Linked DNA regions of Homo sapiens: region 2 is linked to region 1. Evidence: fine-mapped expression QTL. Tissue or cell type: whole blood. Region 1 holds a variant in brackets; the other region holds the start of a gene. All regions are shown on one strand. Distances are between the middles of the regions.

Region 1 (2,760 bases):
CATGGATGGATCTGGGGACCATTATCCTAAGCAAACTAATGCAGGAACAGAAAACCAAATACCATATGTTCTCACTTAAAAGTGCGAGCTAAACAACGAGAACACATAGACACAAAGAGGGAAATGACACACACGGACCTACTTGAGGGTGGAGGGTAGGAGGAGGGAGAGGATCAGAAAAAAAAATAACCTGTTGGGTACTGTGCTTATTATCTGGGTGACTAAATAATCTGTACACCAAACCCCTGTGACATGCAGTTTACCTGAATAACAATCCTGCACCTGTACCCCTAAACCTAAAATTAAAGTTAAAAAAAAAAGCTTTAAAAATGTCTAGTACACACCAGTGTTCATTGTAGCATCATACACAATAGCCAAAAGAGGAAAACAACTCAGGTATCCATCAACAGATGAATGGATAAACAAAATGTGGTCTATACATACAATGCAATATTATTCAGCCTTAAACGGAAGGAAATTGTGGCACATGCTACAACATGGATGAACCTTGAAGCCATTATGTTAAGGGCTGATGGTTGCATAACAATATGGATGTACTTAATTGCACTGAATTACACAACGTCTCACTCTATTGCTTGGGCTGGAGTGCAGTGGCGCAAAATTTCGGCTCACTGCAGCCTTGATCACCGGGGTTTAGGTGATCCTCCCACCTCAGCCTCCCAGGTAGCTGAGACTACAGGCATGCGCCCACCACACCCTGCTAATTTTTTGTATTTTTAGTAGAGACAGGGTTTTGCCATGTTGTGCAGGCTGGTCTCAATCTCCTGGGCTCAAGCAATCTGCCTGCCTTGGCCTCCCAAAGTGTTGGGATTACAGGGGTGAGCCACTGTGCTCAGCCTATTTTACCACAGTTTAAAAAAATAATTAAAAATAATCTTAATCCCAGCACTTTGGGAGGCCGAGGCGGGCAGATTACTTGAGGCCAGGAGTTTGAGGCGAGCCTGGCCAACATGGTGAAACCCCGTCTCTACTAAAAAATACAAAAATTAGCCGTACGTCGTGGCCCACGTCTGTAATCCCAGCTACTTGGGAGGCTGAGGCATAAGAATTGCTGGAACCCAGGAGGCGGAGGTTGCAGGGAGCCAATATTGTACCACTGCACTCCAGCCTGGACGACAGACAGACCTAGACTCTGTTTCAAAAAACAAACAAACAAACAAACAAACAAACTTTATATATATGCAACCTATTTTAATTACATTACTTTAGCTCTCTATATAAATGACTTCACAAAACGATTTAATACTATATTTTTGTATTTTTAACAAAGTCAGTAAGATAGTGATTTGAAGACAATTATGGCTGGGTGTAGTGGCTCACGCCTGTGATGCTAGCAATTTGGGAGGCCAAGGCAGGTGGATCACTTGAGGTCAGGAGTTTGAAACCAGCCTAGCCAACATGAAGAAACCCTGTCTCTACTAAAAATATTTTTAAAAATTAGTCAGGCATGGTGGCGGGCTCCTGTAATCCCAGCTACTTGGGAGGCTGAAGCAGAATCACTTGAACCCAGGAGGTGGAAGTTGCAGTGAGCCAAGATCCCATAATTGTACTCCAGCCTGGGCAACAAGAGCAAAACTTTATCCTCCGCCCCCCGACCACCCCCCCTCGCCCAAAAAAAGACAATTTCTGCAT[C/T]TTATGTTTATGAGAGTCACTTAATTCAATATATGGCTGTTGGTGACAATGTACGTTGTACTGTAAAATGTCTGAGTGATACATTCTCCCTTGACTTTGGTTCTAGGTAAGTTTGCTTTCATGGTGAATTGCTGCCTGCTTTCTTTATAAGAAGAACTCTATTTACCTTTCTGCTTTGACTGTCAGGAACTGAGACACCTTTTATGCTGAATTGAAGTGATTAGCTGGTCAAACCAGTATTTCCCTGGAGAATCATTAACCATCATTAAATAAATAATATCCTGTTCCTATTCACTTTGAACACCATGAGTGAAGTGGCTTGGTTGGAGTACAGTGTCTGAAATTGAGACTGCTGGCTTTTGTGACTTTGGACCTTGTCCAAATACTTTAACAGCATGATTCTTCCTCTTGTTGTGCCCCATTTCTAGAAAATGATTTCCTGTATCTTTGAGGTTTCTCTAATGTTACGGGAAGTCAGGGACCCTAAACGGAGGGACCGGCTGGAGCCGTGGCAGAGGAACATAAACTGTAAAGATTTCATGGACATTTATCAGTTCCCAAATAATACTTTTATAATTTCTTATGCCTGTTTTTACTTTAATCTCTTAATCCTGTTATCTTCATAAGCTAAGGATATACGTCACCTCAGGACCACTGTGATAATTGTGTTAACTGCACAAATTGATTGTAAAACATGTGTGTTTGAAAAATATGAAATCAGTGCACCTTGAAACAGAACAGAATAACAGCGATGATTAGGCAACAAGGGAAGACAACCATAAGGTCTGACTGCCTGTGGGGTCGGGCAAAAAGAGCCATATTTTTCTTCTTGCAGAGAGCCTGTAAATGGATGTGCAAGTAGGAGCGATATCACTAAATTCTTTTCCTAGCAAGAAATATTAATATTAATATCCTGGGAAAGGAATGCATTCCTGGGGGGCGGTCTATAAACGGAGGCTCTGGGAGTGTCTGTCTCATGTGGTTGAGATAAGGACTGAGATACGCTCTGGTCTCCTGCAGTACCCTCAGGCTTACTAGGGTGGGGAAAAACTGCCCTGGTAAATTAGTGGTCAGACCAGTTCTCTGCTCTCAAACCCTGTTTTCTGT
Region 2 (2,621 bases), 240 kb after region 1:
TTGAATTCCCCCTCCCTTCTCACCGAAGATCTAGGTCTTCCAGGCTCTCTTTCTAAATCTTCCACGAGAGTCACTGCCTCCTCTCCATTTTCTGGACATTGTTCCTGTACCCAATTCTGGATCTCCCCAGGTAAGACGGTCAGGAACTGCTCTAGCACCAACAGTTCTACAATCTGCTCCTTGGTGCGCACCTCCGGCCTTAGCCACCGACAGCAAAGTTCCCAGAGTTGGCTGAAAGCCTCCCGCGGCCCAGCCACCTCCTGGTAATGGAATCTCCTGAAACGCTGTCGGAAGGTCTCAGAGTTAGTGCCATTCTCTCTTAGAGCTGATTTGGCCATCATTAATAGCAGAATGCAGCTTCCCTTCGCTTAGGAGTCTGGGTTCCAGGGCTTACATCTATCTTCCCATGTCCTTGGAGAATCCCCTGCAGATGACTGTAAGAGGTGTTTCTTCCTAGGGCAGAGAAAGATGGCACTATCAGAAGGAATACATTCATATGTCTAAAGTCTTGCCAGAGCTGGCCTGCCTTTCCATGTGCTCCGAGTGGCCTTCTAAGGTAGCACAATCTTCAGTAAATAGACTTTGCAAAAACTGCTTTTCTGGTTGACTTCCAGGGCAGCCCCAGGAAGCAGCAGAGAATAAAAGTACTGTCTGCCCCTCTCCCACCTCCTCCAAATCCGATCCCATTTAACTTCCCTGGCCAATGTTGCACAGTGAGTCCGAACCATATAGGAGAGCTGGAGTTCGAGAGGATCTAAAGACAAGTCACCATCCTGCTTGAAGGCAACAAAAAGCCTCTGTCCAGCTGGTCGCAGCTGATCTCCCCCAGTATCTCCGCAGTCCTTCCCGAGGCCTTCTGCGTCCGCCCCGCCCCCTCGGGCTGCACAACTCCCAAAGCCCACCCCAGGCAAAAATCACGTCCAGAATCTCGGGTCTTTGTTTTCCCCGCGTAGTAGTAGCCGCTCAGCAAGGATTAGGGAGCTACCTGTCGGAAAACCTCGCGCAAGGAGAGAAGCTGGTTTTGGCTCCAAAGCGAGGACCATGGGGGCTTGGGGAGAGTCACATTGGGCAGGAGAGACGGAATCCGAGGAGCAGTAGTAACGGGCTTCCTGAGGACGGGCTCGGGTGTCGGCCAGAGGCTCCAGGTGCTGCCGGTTCGCGGACGCAGAGCTCTCAGCCCAAGGAGCAGCGGCTGCGGGATTCTGGCCTCTTTTGTCTCCGCTCCCTCCGGCCGGGTAACCCGGAGCCGTCGTGCGGTCCCTCCAGAGGCCTCTGACCCGGCTAAGGCGCCCTGAGGGCGCCCTCCAGCCCACCCCTGGGAGCGTCTCCCTCTCGAGCTGCCCCTCAACCCCCTCGCATCCTTGCCTCCGGGCCAGCCTCACCCACTCGGGGTCCGACCCTGACCCCGGCCCCGGCCCCGGCCCCGGCCCCGGCTCTCCAGCCTCCCAAGTACAGCTCCCAAACCGGAAGTCCGAGCGGGCGGCTCGGGGCACCGAGGGCGCATGCGCGAGGGCAGCGACCGCGACTCAGTCTCCGCAGAGCCCGGGCGGGAGTAGCTGGTGGACCCCGTTGAGCTGCCGAACTTCCGGGACTCCCCCGCGACCCCTTCCCAGCTTCCCGTCCGCTCCGCCGCAGCGATTGTCTCGGTGGGTTGATTCGGCACAAACCGCCCGACCCAGGGGCCGGTGCGCGTGTGGAAGGGGAAGCACTCCCCTCGTGGTCGCCTGGAGGTGCGCTGGAGGAGGGGGTGACATAACCAGGGACTCGAGGTCCGCCGTGGGAATGATCCACGAACTGCTCTTGGCTCTGAGCGGGTACCCTGGGTCCATTTTCACCTGGAACAAGCGGAGTGGCCTGCAGGTACTGTCCGGCGCAGAGCGCGGGAACCAGGGAGCGCAGGAGGGGGGACCTGAGCCAGCGCCTGGGGGAGTAGGCTGAGGGACCTAGCGAGCGGGGCTTCCAGGGCTGGGGGCGTATCCCTGGACAGGTGACTGGAGGGCAGCCCCTTAGGGTCAAGGCTGATGCGACACCTAGAGAGGCCGGGCCTAGGCTAGAAAACGGAGGGCAGACCTCGAAGAGCCCCACCTGTGGCGGGGCGAGGAAAGGGCCTGAGGTCCAGGTGTCTGACAGTTGCTGGGGAATGATATAGAAGTGTGGGAGGCACTTTCTCCTATTTATTTTCACACGTGCATTGTTTGAGTTTTGAAGTACTGGGCCAAATACACAGCTCCCAAACACATGGTAAGCGCTCAGTAAAGTTTGTTGAAGGAAATAAATGAAATCGAGAGCGTGTGGTGTTTCCCTCATTACTCCTTTACCAGAAAATTTCTGCACTAGGTAAAGCACTTGGTAGGGGGCCTTTGTGTAACCAGGAATGTATGATGTTCCGTATGCATTATCTTATTTAATCCTCACAACCACCTTATCCATTTTACAGATTAAGCTAGGTTTAGAATAGTTAAATAACTATCGGGGTCATAGCTAGTAATTAACAGAGCTTAGTTTTGAAGCCAGGTCTGTCTGGCTTCAGTATTTGAACTACTTTTACCTGCTTCTGCTTCCAGTAATGTTATCTAATGCTCTCAATAATTTAGTCCACTTAGGTATTGTTTCTACCAGTT

What was found. PIP is the estimated chance that this variant, and not a neighbour inherited with it, causes the effect.
Region 2: ZSCAN29 starts here. The variant in region 1 is fine-mapped to the expression of ZSCAN29 in whole blood (INTERVAL, PIP 0.99).

What each region holds. Positions count from the first base shown.
Region 1 is chr15:43,126,009-43,128,768 of GRCh38, forward strand. No RefSeq gene overlaps it. Among named protein-coding and RNA genes, the nearest start is that of TMEM62, 6.2 kb to the right of the region's middle. The variant C/T (reference allele first, on the strand shown) is at 1,654.
Region 2 is chr15:43,369,573-43,372,193 of GRCh38, forward strand. It overlaps ZSCAN29 (zinc finger and SCAN domain containing 29), which reads right to left and starts at 1,471. Exons shown (of 6, transcript NM_001372080.1): 1 at 986-1,471; 2 at 24-453. The coding sequence starts at 341. TUBGCP4 (tubulin gamma complex component 4) reads left to right here and starts at 1,529. Exons shown (of 18, transcript NM_014444.5): 1 at 1,529-1,860. The coding sequence starts at 1,783. RefSeq lists a silencer at 1,170-1,439 and an enhancer at 1,540-1,659.